3 separate regions of the Homo sapiens genome follow, and all the other regions are linked to region 3. A link means that fine-mapping ties the variant in region 3 to the expression of a gene that starts in the linked region. Tissue or cell type: whole blood. Region 3 holds a variant in brackets; each other region holds the start of a gene. All regions are shown on one strand. Distances are from middle to middle.

Evidence for each region. PIP is the estimated chance that this variant, and not a neighbour inherited with it, causes the effect.
Region 1: it holds the start of SH3YL1, and the variant in region 3 is fine-mapped to the expression of SH3YL1 in whole blood (TOPMed, PIP above 0.99).
Region 2: FAM110C starts here. The variant in region 3 is fine-mapped to the expression of FAM110C in whole blood (TOPMed, PIP above 0.99).

What each region holds. Positions count from the first base shown.
Region 1 is chr2:261,723-266,870 of GRCh38, forward strand. It overlaps SH3YL1 (SH3 and SYLF domain containing 1), which reads right to left and starts at 2,310. Exons shown (of 10, transcript NM_015677.4): 1 at 2,262-2,310. The coding sequence starts at 2,262. It overlaps ACP1 (acid phosphatase 1), which reads left to right and starts at 3,225. Exons shown (of 6, transcript NM_004300.4): 1 at 3,225-3,285. The coding sequence starts at 3,243. RefSeq lists silencers at 2,206-2,785, 2,856-2,935 and an enhancer at 3,286-3,335.
Region 2 is chr2:43,756-48,903 of GRCh38, forward strand. FAM110C (family with sequence similarity 110 member C) reads right to left here and starts at 2,750. Exons shown (of 2, transcript NM_001077710.3): 1 at 1,685-2,750. The coding sequence starts at 2,630.
Region 3 is chr2:174,036-179,183 of GRCh38, forward strand. LOC105373324 (a long non-coding RNA gene) reads right to left here. Exons shown (of 4, transcript XR_922689.3): 2 at 1,523-1,733. Among named protein-coding and RNA genes, the nearest start is that of SH3YL1, 87 kb to the right of the region's middle. The variant A/C (reference allele first, on the strand shown) is at 2,583.

The DNA.
Region 1 (5,148 bases), 88 kb after region 3:
ACGGTTTCCAATCTAGTTGTACACGGAGGGTCAGGAATGAAAGCAAGAAGACCCAAGGGCCCCTCTCCACCACTTTCCTTACCAGAGTTCAGATTCCCAAACTTTTGCTTCCCTTATATTATTTTCTTCAATGGACTCTAATTATGAAAGGAATACTTACAGGAAAGCAAGCTTACTAAATTTGGTTTTCCAAGTTCTTACTGATTACATATTAATCAAATTATTAAACCTTATACTTTATGTGAAATGGAGGTTAACTCATTAAACTGATAAAATTCCATCTAAGATCAAAGGAACTTGAATGCTGCTAAAGGTATATTTAGAATAAACTAAAGAAATCTTAGCCAAAAGAAAGTGTATGTATCTAATCTTTAGAGAGGCTTTCAAATGTTGCTTTAAGCTACTTTTATTAACAAAACTGCATTTTGAACTCCACTGCTTGACAACTATGGCCTTTGTTTCTTAAGTCAATTCTTACCTTTCTGGGGCCTTGGTTTAACTACTTCCTTTGTTTTAAGGACACAAAGCTTGTCAGTTCTCAAAATAAAAACCTGTCTCTCTGGTCAGATCATTAACTCCCTAGTCAAACTTTCAGACTACCGTCTGAACATCAAGTGCTAGCCTGAGCTTGTTTCCAGTCCCCCAACCCCAGGCTGTGGCTGGGGAAGGAAGAGGACAGCGAAAGCTTTCTCTGCTCCCTCGGGAGACAGGAAAGCCCTTTATTTATTCCTGCCCTTCCTCTTCTCCAACTGAAGAGTGTGATCTTGGTACAGAGCAGTTCCACACATGCCACACTGGTCTGATCTTTTAGAGTAAAAAATGGGATCTTCTCAGAGAAAATTTTTTTAAAAACTTCATGTGCTTAGGTCTCAGAGCAGAGAATTTTGTCTTATCATGACGCCACTCACTGGCAAACAAGCTGGCGTGCACAGGGACTTGTGAGGCTCTCAGCAGAGTCAGGGTAGCAGTTATTTCCCTTTGACTGCCTCAACTTCCTATGTTTGTGTTGACATGCCAGATCCTTATTTCTGCGGAATGAGAAATCTCTTGAGAATAAAGTTTTCCTAAACAGAACAAAAGTATCAAATCACTTTTGATGAGCAAACATTATTTTAAACTTTTTTTTAACTTACAAAAGATGAGGGGTAACATTTACTAGTTTTACAGAAATTTTCTTTAAACAGAACATTAGTGAACCAAATAACCAATTCTCCTCAAACATGATAGACAGGATGGAGGTTATCACTTTGATCATTTTAACCTCCAACATAGTAATTTGTAAACATCAGTCGCTGCACAAGTATTTTAATAACAGGCCAGCCCACGGGAGTAAACAGCACCTTAGCCTCGAGACCTGTTCTCTCAACTGTGTGTACAGATTTTCTAAGTCGTTATGAATTCAGATATTCCCTACATCTCAATAAAAACACCTAGGAGAACAAGAAATCAGGACATGCATCTCCTGTAAGCAGAAGAGAAACCGAGCACCTGCTCTCTTGCGGGGGGGCAGCTTCGTGTCACTTTCCAACTCAGCCTCCACAGGAGCATGGGCATATTGGTTCAAATGAAGTGTAAAGGACACATCTCTGTCCACAGTGTAAATCCTATTTCCTTAAGGTGGTCAACCGATTGAGACCAGTTCCACACTTCCTTAAAGAAGGAAAAACTCAGCAGCCAGCGCCAAGGCCCAGCGATCAGAGAGGACCCGTGCTCGCCGCGACCCCGCGCTCGCCCTGTGGCCCCGCGACCCCGGCGCCAGGTGTTGGGGGGACCGGCCCTTCCCTTCCGGGTGTGAGGGGCTGGCCCTTCTCTTCCAGGTTGGGGGGCTGGCAAACTCGAACCTCGCCGGCGCCCTAGCCAAGGCCTCCTCCCCGCGCCTGCCGCGGGTTCCACGCACATTCCAAGCGCGCGCATTCGACCCAAACTTCAGAGACGCTTCTGTGGAACGGAAGGATGGTCGCTGACACCTCGCCGTTCAAATATCAGGAAGTTAAAAATAACACGACCATCGTCATCATTCCAAACTTCGGAATAGCTTTTCTAAAAATGGAAAAGACGGTGGCTAAACTTCAATCAAAATCGCTGTGGTCAAGAAAGTCCTGGAAGCTGCTCTATCTTAACTTTGGGCGGTTTGCGGTTAACAGACGCGCGACCTAGAAACCCCAGAGGCATCGCCGGTTTTCCCGTCCTCCTCCTCCCACCACCGCCCAGCTCTTGAGAGGGGAGGGTGCTGCCGGACAGGTGGGTCCCCGGGTACTCACTGCTGCCCGCCCGGCCGCGGCGCCCCGTCCCGAGGCTGCCCAGGAAGAGGAAGGCGCGCTGCCCCGCCCCGCGGACAAGGAGGCCCCAGCGAGGGCGTACCTGCGGCAGGTGACGAAGGAGGCGGCGCAAAACACCCGCCGTGTACGTTTCGCGGGACAAAAACCACGCGCCCGCCGGGCCGCGCTCAGGCCTTCGCCCTCAGGGACTTCGGAACCGCCCCGTCCTCAAGATCGAAAAGCCCAGAGCCCCGCGGCGGCTCCAAGCACGGTGTTGGGGGTGGGGGTCTCAGGGAGCGCCCAGGCCCAAGGCCGCCCTGGTCCGGCGTGGACCCCGCGGGGCTCAAGGCAGGTTCCCCGCGTGACCCGCCCAGCCCCTCTATGCGAACTCGAACGACAGGCACCACAGCCCGCCACGTGCGCGAGACTCGCGCTGTGCCCCAACCCAGGTGGGCGGCCCGCGGAGCCGCGAGGCCTGAGCCCGCCCTGCAGGTGACCCGCGGCCCTTCCTCCTCCAGGTACCCCTCTCCTGCGGCCCCGTCCCCTATAGGTAACCTTTACCTCCCGCGGCTCCTTCCCCTCCAAGCGACCCGCAGCCCCGCCCCCTCCAGGTGACTCCCCCCCGCCAACCCCCGCCACCACACACACACACCCCCTCGCCTTCCGCGGCCCTACTCCCTCCAGGTGACCCCACCCCCGCAGCTCCTCCTCCTCCGGACAACCTGCAGCCCCGCCCCTGCAGGTGAACGGCGGCCCAGTCCCTGCAGGTGACCCGCGGACCCTCCCCGCCCGTCCTACTACCGTCATAGGACCGCCTCCGCAGGCGCACTGGAGCCGATTGCGCAGGCGTGGCTCTCACACGCGCTGCCCTGTTGGCGTTGGTGCGGGACTGCGCAGGCGCGCGGGGCAAGAGGGTGGCAGTGCGCCTGCGCCGCGTCGGCGTGCGGAACGCCGCGGTGTCTCGGCGCCTCTGCGCGCGGGAAGATGGCGGAACAGGCTACCAAGTCCGTGCTGTTTGTGTGTCTGGGTAAGAGGGCGCCGACTTACTCATGTTCTGACGTCCTCTGGAGAGTTGGATCGGGCTTGTGCGCTGTAGGTTGTGCCGCCGGCCTAGGAACCATGAGGGGGAGGAGGCCAGGGACTGGGAGGCCTAGGGTGTTCTAGGAGTGTGCCGCAGCGCCCCTGTTCCCCATCCGCCCCGTGCACCCGCCCAGCCTGCCCGCTAAACCTGGGTCCCCTCGCGCCTGCCATATATCCGGGGCTCTTGGCATCTGCAGCCACAGCCCCTACAAGCCAAGGTACTTTCTTTGCGACTACTAGAATCCCTCTCGTTCCCCTCCAATGGGCCCAGGTAGGCCTGGAGGTTGTCGGACTGATGTGGTCTCTTAGGGGCCTCCTGAGTCCTATGACAACATTGTTTTGTTTGCTAGTTTCCTTAGCCCATGCTTAGATAGGGATCTGAGTTAAAGGGAGATGAAGTTTTACGGTTTCGGGTTTCTTGATTGTAAAAGCCAAGCAAAGGAGACCTGGAGGTCCCTATATAACTTTGGCCCATGAAAAATGAAAGTGTATTTTATTAATGGCTTTTCAGGAACTTTCCAGCTTAAATTATTTTCACTCCTAGAATTTCAACACTTAGCTTGCCTTACTTCAAACATAATTTATTTTCCGTTTGGTCTTCAGGGATCTTCCTTTGGTGTAGCACTACAAGGTTATATTCCTCGGTGCCTCCACCCTGAGAGGAAGGCCTAAATTGTCAGTAGTCCGGTTACTTAAAACCTTCTGTGAGTTTGCATTTCCTGCAGTTTCTGTTTATTTTTACAGACTCCTCACTTTATCTCCTGTACCTTTTCCTGCTCACACCCTCGGGACACTGCCTTCCAGAACCTTTCGTTGTTCGGTAGCACTTCACATGCTTACTGAGCCTTCATCGCTGGGTGCCCATTATGCATTTTGCCTGGAAAGCCTTTTTATTTTATAAAGTCAAACCTAAATATTTCCTCCTTTGCTTTCCCAGATCATGAGTTGCTTCCTTATCGACATCTTTTATTACACAAATTTTACTATAATTTGTGTAATATAGTAAAAGATGTAATACAGAAAAGGTGTGATTCCTTATCGACATCTTTTATTACACAAATTTTACTATAATTATTTGATAGTCTGTTGAAATCCCAGCTGAGTTTAATTTTGTCGATGGCAATAACTGTGGCTTATTTTTCATTTTGTTTTCAGCTTTAGGACAATATATGATAAACGCTGACTAGGTTTTGTAGAAGTTAACTTCTGTGAAAGACGAATTAGAAGGCTTACCTTGTTTCACATTGGTAGTGGGCATCATTTGATTTTTAAGACTCATTGAAGGCTGAATGATGAAATCAATAAGTTTATTAAACAGTAGTTTGGTTAAGGATGGTTACTAAATAATATTCCATTCCCTTGTATAGTTTTGGTTGGTATTGTCGATTATGCTGGCATAATGCATCATGGTTGCTGTTAATGGGGAAGTGTATCCTTGCATATACAGTAGTCCCACTTTAGCTGTAGGGGATACATTCCAAGACTCCCCAGTGGATCCCGAAACTGTGGGTAGTACCAAACCCAATTGCTGTCAATTGGAACATGTGTCTGCTCGTTTCTTACACCCACAAATGTAATACCGTTGCCACCTTAACTAAGCATTTAAAACTGTGGTCGCAACTTTTGCAGTTTGAGGCAAGACAGCAGACGATCAGGAATTTCTTTTTCCTTGTTTACATTTTCATGGATAGAAGATTTGTTCGTACTGTAGATCTTAGTAACCTCGGTATAAGTTTTTTTTTTCTTTCCATAAGAAGTCAAAAACTTTCACCTTTTTACTTAAGGGTAGTGCTTATGGCTTCTCTTTGCC
Region 2 (5,148 bases), 130 kb before region 3:
CTGCCTGCACATGCTATGGCTACCTGGAGGGAGCTTATTCATAAATTTACTTCTCACGTACTTCAATAGACAACTTTTTTTTGTTTGTTTTCCATTTCTGGGTTTCAGTCATGCAACACAGATTATTACTACACAGACTAGAAAATGTAGAGGTTGAAAACCATCCGCCTATCTCCCTTCTTTTTATGGACAAAGGACGCCTGGTCTATAGTGCAGGAATCATTTGCTAACATAAGACAGGCCCTTAATTCTGGTTTAGTGCTCTATCCACCAGACACTGTCCCTCCACGGACCTGGCCACTCTCCAAAGCTCCTGCCCTACACATGGTGCCATCATGGAAATACCCTTGCCAGCATTCATTCATCTCAGATCCAAAAGACAATTTGTGAAAACTACAAATTAATGTTTGTTTGCTTTTTAGAACTTTGCCTATATATATTTGTTGGGAACTTAGGCTAGTGGAAAACACAAATCTTCTATAAATTATAAGGAAGAACTTAAGTCCTGAGCCTTCTGAGTTCAAGAAAAAGAATGAATTATCTTCTTCTCATTAATTTTCATGTCTGTACTAAAGTCATAGCCAGAGAAATTATTGGAGATATTTTTAGCTGTCAAACATAGGTGAGCCCTGTGCAAACATCTCTTGGGCAGCCTCCCCCAAACTCTACAGGCTGCCATGCATCTTCACTTAGTTTATCACAATGGCAGAAAATAATTTCATCTCATGATTTTTAAAATTTACTTATAGCAAGTTGTCATTGAAGGGTAAGAGGAAAAAAAAGATGTCGCAAAGTTTAAATTGTTCGTTCTCAAAGACAGCCCTGAAAAGGTTCTTTCTCTTCACTACTTTCCAAGACGCCCATAGGGAAGAGCAGGTAACAGTGAAGACCAGCACTCCTCAGTTCCCCAGTGAAAAGCAAAAAGAGCTCGAGGTCAATCCGGCACTACTGGTTGTCCAAAGGGAGGTTACTTCCTGTAGTGTCATCAGAGGCAAATAAACTATAGACTCTAGTTACAATCTAGTCCAATTTCCCCAGTTTAAAAACCTGAAGCTCTCAAAACAATTTAAATAAAATTTAGCCAAATAAAGATCTTTGTTGCTAAGTGAATGCCAAAGTGCTACAAGATCCTGTGGAGAAGTTCTCACCACTTCAGCACAGGCCTCCAGGAAAGTGCAGGGAGTCTTCCTTTCTGTTCCAGTAACACAGCAGCGCCTACCTAGGGCTGCAGGTGGACTGGTCAGCTCCAATCAAACATCAGGACCGCCCACAGCACAGGTCAATGAACTCAGGAACTAGGGCTCTCAAGCTGTTTTCAGCTCAGGAAAGAATACTAGGGGTGTAAAACTGCTTTCTGGCAGCATTTTGGATTTCTCCTGTTTTCACAATAATAAGCCAAATGGGACATATTAATTTGCAGAATTGCCTTTCCAGGCAGCCAGACGCAGCAGACTCCTAAGGGCCTGGACCAGCAGGTGCCTGGATTGGTACCTTCTGCTCTTCAGCAGCGGGGGCTCAACTCACAAGCCTCTGCGTCAGTCTCTTGGGTCCCTTTCACACTGTAGCTCAAAATCGCACTCAATTCTAAGCAGCTGTAACTGGCCATCGCCCAGCTCGGTCACACTCACCAAGATTCACAGCCCCGCACACGGCCAGCCCCGCCCCCAGCCTTCTGGGCACACACCTCGGGTCCGGCTCTGCTCCTGGCTGGGGGTCTCCTTGGCCTTCTTACAGGTGTACAGCCACTTGATGATGCGGGCGTTCCTCTCGATGACCGAAGTGGTGCTGGGCACCTGCTCTATCAGCTCCTCCTCCTGCAGCCCCTCGTCGTCGCCGCCGCTGTGCCGGGAGAAGCCGCTGCCGGAGGTGGCGACGCTCACGCTGCGCACCTTGAGGGTCACACAGTCCGACCCCGCGGTGAAGTTCTCCCTCCCCAGGGCCTCCACCACCTCGGGGTCCAGGCCGCAGTACTGGAAGAAGGTGTCAGACTCGGCCAAGGCAGCGGAATAGCGGGAGCTGAGGTCCGACTGTGAGCGCTGCAGCCCCCGACGCCTCACCACCCGCGGCTCTGGCCCAGGGGGCGCGGCCGGGACACTGGAGGGCGCCGCGGACCGCGCGGCTGGGGCTGGGGTCTCGGGGATTGCGGGGTCCGCCGCGGGGCCAGGAGTGGTCGGGACCGTCTCCGGGTTCCCGGCCTTGCCCTCGTCTCCCGTCCGGGGCACCGGCGCCTTGTCCTTACCCGGCCCCTGGAAGAGCTTCTTCACCAGGCTTGCCCTGGGGCCGTCGGCGCCCGATCCTCGCACGAATTCGCATTTCTGCCGGTAGATGATCAGCGAGTCCGGTCTCAACGGCTTCCGCGCAATAGCCCTGCGCGCCACCGGGGCCGGGGCGCGGGCCGGGGGCCCAGGGTCGTTCCCCGGGCACTTGATCGCCCCCGGGCCGCTGCCCTCGGAAGCGACGCCCCGGCCAGTCCCCGGCCGACCCCGCACATACTTGGCGCGATCCGCCGCCAGCCTCTCCACTGCGCTCCTGCGCGCCGGCCGCGCGGCGTCGGGGTCCCGGGTAGCCGCGGGGTCCCGGGGAAGGAGCCGCTCGTTCGGGGGCGCGCTCAGGGCCGCCAGGGCGCGCATCTTCGCGGGGAATGGACCGACCGGGGTTCCGGGTCCAGCGGAGACGCGCTCGAGTGGTAGAGCCAGTCAGTCCCAGGGCCGGTTCCGAAGTCCGCGCCGGGTGGGGAACGGCGCCCCAGTGCCCAGCTGCCCAGGCCCGGGGTTGGGGAGAACCGGAGTCTGCACCGATTGGCGAAACTCCCCAGTTCCCGCCCCTCCCGACCTCATCGCCCACACCGACTGGCACCGCCCCCGCCCCCGCCCGGTGCCCCGGCCCTGGCCGCGTCCCCGCATCCCCGCTCGTCCCCGCCCGTCCCCGCCTCCTCACTCCCGCCCGGGCCCGCCTCCCTGGCCGCTCTCCGGGTGCCAGCGCCCGCCCTCACCTCGCGTCCGGGGTCCCGGCCCTCACCTCCTGCCCGGTGCCGTCCCCGCCCCCCCTCACCTTCCGGCGGCGCTGCCAACCGCCTGGAGGACGCTGGGGCGAGCAGGCTCTGAACCCCCACTCGCTCAGCCCCAGATCCCCGAGGTCACTGCTGGACGCAGGCATTTCCGGGGAGGGGGAGCAGAGGGGACGTCCCCCCACCTCCCCCGGGCAGGTGCCTCACATCCTTTGAATTCTTAAAGTGACCTCATCGTGTTTGGAAACTTGACTGTTTAATTTTGTCTACCTGAGCTCATATTCTTATTAACAGAAAGGAATAGGACATAAGAGGAAAGAACACGCAGCGCACGCCAGGATCAGCCTACGTGTTGGGTGGCAAGAACGCAGGGCCTCGGATTGGGTCCGACTCGGTCGCTGGCCGGCAGCGGGCGTGGCCGGGCCCGAGGACCGAGCTAGGACTCTCAGTGGGGCAGGCTGGGGCCCCAGGCGCGGCTCAGTGGATTTGGAAGAAGCCCAGCCAAGTGTCCAGAATCATTGCTATTTTTACGGTAACCGAGGCAACGGGGAAACCACGAGTTCACCAGGCAGTGGATCAGCCTAGGAATGCTAAGAGTCTAAGATAAAATACTTCCCAAACTCCATTATTTCAAAAATTTGGACAAAATACTAAAGTTATCTCTCAGACATGTGAAATGTTCACGTTATCGCGTTGTGAAGACAACTCCGTAACAGGCTGTGCTTTCAGCCTTGTGGTTGAACGCTCCGAGCAGCAGCAGCCCGGAAGGCAGGGAGGGCGACAGGTGCAGATGGGCCCCCAAAGTGGGCACGAACACCTCACCAACGAGGAAGAGGACCGCAGCAGGGTGGTGCTGAGTGGGCCTTGGGGGTCTTTAATCTCCTTGAGCCCCAGCGAAGCAAAATTTCATAGGGATAGTAGCACAACAATAAATCGCCTCCTGAAAGCCAGACCGCCCAGACAGCCTCGTTGGAACATGTAAGACTCATAGGAAAAGGAGTCTAGGCCAATAAAGTAGAGAGTGGGAGAAGAGAAGGAAGGATGCGGGGGTGGGGAGTGAAAGAGAGGGACAGAGATGGAGAAAGGGGGAGCTCCTGGGTTGCCACAGATGGTTTCCTACAGGATGCGGGAGGATGGGGCCTTGAGGTCTAAAGTCCAGCCTGCTCTCTGCTTGGCAAGCCTGTTCCCTAAGTCAGAGGAAAAAACCTTTTTAATTGTGTAGCCCAAAGTGTCTTCTTTTCCTAATTTGCACTACTTCATGGGCAACAGCAGCACTTCTAAGACAGAGAACTGCAAAGTACAGGACCTCTGGAATTTGACCCTGGGTCCACAATTTACCTTTGGACAGGTAACAAACGTTCCAGGTTGTTTTGTCACCTGTAAAAATTTCTGTTTTAAATTTACAAGAAAAGACAATCCCATTAAAAAGCGGACAAAGGACATGAACAGACACTTCTCAAAGGAAGACATTTATGTGGCCAACAAACATATGAAAAAAGCTCAACATCATAGATCATTAGAGAGATGCAAATCAAAGCCAATGAAATACCATCTCACGCAAGTCAGAATGGCTGTTATAAAAAGTCAAGAAACAACAGATGCTAGAGAGGCTGCAGACAAATAGGAACGTTTTCACACATTGATGGGAATGTAAATTAGTTCAACTACTGTGGAAGACAGTGTGACAATTACTCAAAGACCTAGAACCAGAAATATCATTTGACCCAGCAATACCATTACTGAGTATACACCCAAAGAAATACAAATTATTGTCTTATGAAGATACATGCACACATATGTTCACTGCAGCACTACTCACAATGGCAAAGATGTAGAATCAACCCAAAGGCCCATTATAGACTGGACAAAGAAAATGTGATACATATACACCATGGAATACTATGCATCCATAAAAAATAATGAGATCATGTACTTTGCAGGGACATGGATGGAGCTGGAAGCCATTATCTTCAGCAAACTAACACAGGAACAGAAAACCAAACACCACATGTTCTCACTTATAAGCGGGAGACGAACAATGAGAACACATGGACACAGGGAGGGCAACAACACACACTGGGGCCTGGTGGGAGGTGGGGAGACAGAGGGGGAGAGAGAGCATCAGGAAAAATAGCTAATGC
Region 3 (5,148 bases):
CTTCATGTGTCACTATTAAATGTGAACAGTGAAGAATCACCTCTAGATGAGCCTTTCACTAATGATAACACAGACTCATTCTCCTTCTTCATGTGTCACTATTAAATGTGAACAATGAAGAATCACCAGACATTTCAGGGAAACCAATCCCAATGGGAAAAAAGACCAAGGTAAACTGGGAGGCAGAATGATTGTTGAGAACCTAACATTGTAGCAAAATAAGAAATAAGAGTTTTATATCATCATTCACTTAGTGGTAGTGTCTGGGGTTTCACTATACAAATATATCACTTTGATATATATATATATATATATATATATATATATATACATATACACACACACACACACACACACAGACACACACACACACACACACACACACATATATATATATATATTTTTTTTTTTTTTGGCGGAGTCTCAATCTGTTACCCAGGCTGGAGTACAGTGGTGTGATCTTGGCTCACTGCAACCTCTGTCTCTTGGGTTCAAGTGATTCTCCTGCCAACTTTTGTATTTTAAGTAAAGACGGGGTTTCACCATGTTGGCCAGGCGTGTCTTGAAATCCTGACCTCAGGTGATCTGCCTGCCTTGATCTCCCAAAGTGCTGGGATTGTAGGCATGAGCCACCATGCCTGACCTGACATAGTTTTAACTATTAGAAGAAACCACAGGAAGCTACCATTTGAATAGATCAAACATTAGCAATATATTAAAATATCAGCAATTTCATATGCTCAAGATTATTTTTTAAAAAATAAAAAGAGAAGAGAATTGATTCAATTTCTAGGCCAGCAACCAAAGAAAAAGCAAGAAATGGAAGATTTTACAATTATATAGTAATAGCAAGATCTTACATTTCTATTGAGTTTTAAAGATTACAAAACACATCAATATACATTGCCTTGTTTGATCTTTAAACAACTCTATAATTGTAATTAATATATCTAAAAATTGTAACTCTTGAGAAATCCAGGACGAAACAAATGAAGCCTAAACACAGCTTTAATTTGCCAAGTAATGGGTGGAGAAGGGATCAGAAGCTGGGCTGACTGACCCCACGTCCTCTTCTTCCATTACTTAAAAGAAGTCAGCCAGCACAAAACCTTGGGAAGGACCTGAGATAAAGGCAGTGGGAAAAGAGCAGAGTCAAGGATGATCTATAAACAGAGGTAAAAGAAGGAATGCCTTAAATACAAAAACATATGTCCACAGAGCTGGGAGTTGTACAAAGCCATGTAATTAGAGAACATCATGTTGACAGCAGACTCTTGACCTGGGGGAAAAACGTTCACGACACTGACTCCAAGAAGGATAAACTTGAAGGATTCCAGATGTGAGGCAGTCAAAGCCTCACTTGGAAGCACTGTACAAATGTTCATGTCAAGAACTGAAATGAATTTATACCCACATAAAACTACATGTAGGGGAAGGCTTACTTTGTAAGATGTTTCCGGACACTACATTAGCAGCTGTACCGCACACACTTACACAACACAAACACAGGCAAGCTTGTCACCTGCACAGCTGGAGGGTTAGCCTGGACAGGGCGATTACAGTCTCTCCTGAACCTCTTCCTTCTCGTCCGTGACTGAATCCTATTCACATGCTATAAGGACCATGGGCTTGTGGAATCCAACTTAGCTTCCTTTAGAACCAAAGGATGCCTCTGTGACACATGCAGAAATGACTTCCTTTTATTTTTCATTCAGTCCGTAGGAAGAGAACAGCTGCAAGAGAGAGAAAGAAAATGTACACGGTGGCTAGGTGGAGACGGCACCTGAAGAGTGAGTTTCATGTTTAGCCCCAACAGTTTATAAACATTCATGTGGTGATTAAAGATATTCCCCAAAACCAGAAAACACAACTGAGTCAGCTTCTGTTAGTGAGCATCACGCTGCAACCCAGGGGCCAGATGTCCTTGGAAAAGATCAGAGACATAACACAAATGAGTCAGCTTCTGTTAGTGAGCATTGCGCTGCAACCCAGAGGCCAGATGTCCTTGGAAAAGATCAGAGACATAAAACATCGCCGCCTCTGTTTATGCAACTTACTGAAGTTTACATGGAACCCCCGTGCCCTCCCTGCGTTTAACCTTCTATGCAAATGACAGAGACTGTCACTAGAGAAGGAGCAGTAGATTCTCATCCAGTTCCACAAGTCAACACGAGCATTGTCTCACTCCCCATGTTGACAGCTGCAGAGGATTTTCCATTCCCTGCCCCTACTGCTTCCAAAAACATCGGTTTTACATTGCCATAGCTAATGTTAACACCTCCTAGAATAAAGGGGGAATCACCACCGAGTGTCAGTTCTGGTTCAGACTGTGGAGTGAGGGTGTTATTCTTCTTGCATAAAATGTAGTGACTCCACATTGCACCAGTGGCTTGGTAAAAAAGACAAAATTTCTAGGGAATTAGTATCGATTATTTTTAACTATCATAACCTTGGCTTTATTGACACTTTGTATTAAACAGATCTCACTTGCCAAACGCCACAGGATGCAAGCCAACAGACGGGCCCAGAGAGCTCTCGTGAGCCGGAACTGTCACATAAGAAGCAAAACCACGAGAGAGAGA[A/C]CACCACCCACATCCAACACAGCATAGCCACCCTGAAAGCCTCAGCATGTAAACTTTCGTGGCACCACCCTTTCTTTTAGAAATGTGTTTAGATTTTATAGACTTTTGCTAGACTTTGTTATGTAAGCTTTATGTACTGAAAGGTCTTAATTAAAGATTTTTAAATGTTGAGTAAAATGTTCACCAGTATAGTTTGTAATATATATATAACAAACCTGTCATATAATTTATTTTCTTTAAAAACAAGGCCCTTATACAAATTGCCCATGGAACTTTTATTTAGAATTTAAGGTCATTTGGGGCTTAGTGTCATATAAACAAAATTCTCCCAATTGCTAGGGTCCTCTTGGGGTGCTGCATTCCTGCGAACCATGATCATGCCAGGCTTTGTCAGTGATTGGAAAAACAGATCCTTCTCTGTCTGGGAGCTCAAATGCCTAGGGTGATGCCAGATCAAGTTTTCATTACTGAGTCATACATTCCTAAATTCAGTGTATCTCAGAAAAACAGACATACCTTTAACTCACAACAGTTTAACCTGACAAAGGTCTCAAATACTTCTATTGCAATAAAAATTGTGAAAAGGCTATCTTGCTAGAGATCTCTGACTCAGAGAAGAAAGTGAAGGTTGGGCATGGTAGCTCATGTCTGTAATCCCAGCACTTTGGGAGGTTGAGGCAGGTGGATCACTTGATGTCAGGAGTTTGAGAGCAGCTTGGGAAACACAGTGAAACCATCTCTGCTAAAAATACAAAAATTAGCTTGGCGTAGTGGTGCTTGCCTGCAGTACCAGCTGCTTGGGAGGCTCAGGCAGAATTGCTTGAACCTGGAAGGTGGAGGTTGCAGTGAGCCAAGATTGAGCCACCACATTCCAGCCTGGGTGACAGAATGAGACTCTGTCTCAAAAAAATAAAAAAATAAAAAATAGGCCAAATAAATAAGAGAGAGAGAAAAGAAAGTGAAGAATCTCAGTGACTGCAGCATTTTGGAACAGAATTTCTTTCAGGGAGGAATAGGGCACTGAGTATAAAAAGCAGCAGTGGAAAGAATTGCACAAACCCCTTTTCCATGCACTAGGTCTCTGGGTATAACTTTTATGAAGTTTAATTTCCTTCTAGTTGAATAAAGGTAGCAATGTGTTGCCTTTTACGTTGTGTATGAAGAGCCTAGAATGATGATCGACACCAAAAAGGAGTCAGTAATTTGATCCATTCACTCTTGGGTGCTGAGCTCCTCAGGGCATAGGCAGGAGGCACAGCTGGAAAGCCACCTGTGGGTGCACAGGTGCTGCTGGAGAGCAGAGTGAAGGAGGAAATAGGACAGGTGCTAAGGAACATGCAGGTGGAGCTGGAACACAGAGTGCAAGAGGGAATAGGCCAGGTGCTAAGGAACATGCAGGTGGAGCTGGAGAGCAGAGTGCAGAAGGGAGTAGGTCAGGGGCTAAGGAGAACACAGGGGCAGCTAGAGAGCAGAGTGCAGGAGGGAATAGGACAGGTGCTCATGAAAACACAGGGGAACCTGGGGTTCAGAGTAAAGGAGGGAATAGGACAGGTGCTAAGCATAATGCAGGTGCAGCTAGAAAGTAGAGTGCATGAGGAAACTAGAAGAGATGCTAGAGGAACACACTGAGATAGGTCCTGAGGGCTCCACTGAACCATACTTATCACTGCGTTTCAGAGTTCTTTCTTCTCATGCATCTATTTAAAAGGTGATCATTTGTGCACACTTTCTATCCTGCAGTGTAGCCATTTTAAGTATTCCTAACTAAATTGAGAGCAATTTAAGAACAGATGTCTTCTTGCACACACATGTTTATAGCAGCAAAATTCACAATTACAAAAATATGGAACCAGACTAAATGCCCATCAACCAACGAGTGAATAAATAAAATATTATATATATTATATATATATATGTATACACACACACACACACACACACACACACACACACACCATGGAATACTACTCAGCCATAAAAAGTAAAAAAATAATGGCATTTGCAGCAACCTGGATGGAGTTGCAGACCATTATTCTAGTGAAGTAACTCAGAAATGGAAAAGCAAATACTATATGTTCTCACTTATAGGTGGGACCTAAGCTATGAGGATTCGAAGGCATAAGAATGATAAAATGGACTTTGGAGACTTAGGGGGAAAGGTGAGAGGGGGTGAGGGATAAGAGACTACACATTGGGTACAGTGTACACTGTTTGGGTGATGGGTGCACCAAAATCTCAGAAACCATCACTAAAGAACCTACGCAAGTAACCAAAACCACCTGTTCCCCAGAACTATTGAAATAAAATAAAATAAAAATAACAGATATCTTATTCCTTTGGTAGTCCCCAGGGCCTAGCTCAAGAATTTACTAAATGCTTGTAAAATATAAGAATAAATGGAACAACTGGGTAAGCACAGCTCATGCAGAGACATCCAGCCGTTTCAGAAGTGTTAAGGTTCAGAGCAGTGGGCCCTGCGTAGGTCCTGGGTCATGGCATTTCCAGGAGGCACAGCCGTTTCAGAAGTGTTAAGGTTCAGAGCAGTGGGCCCTGCGTAGGTCCTGGG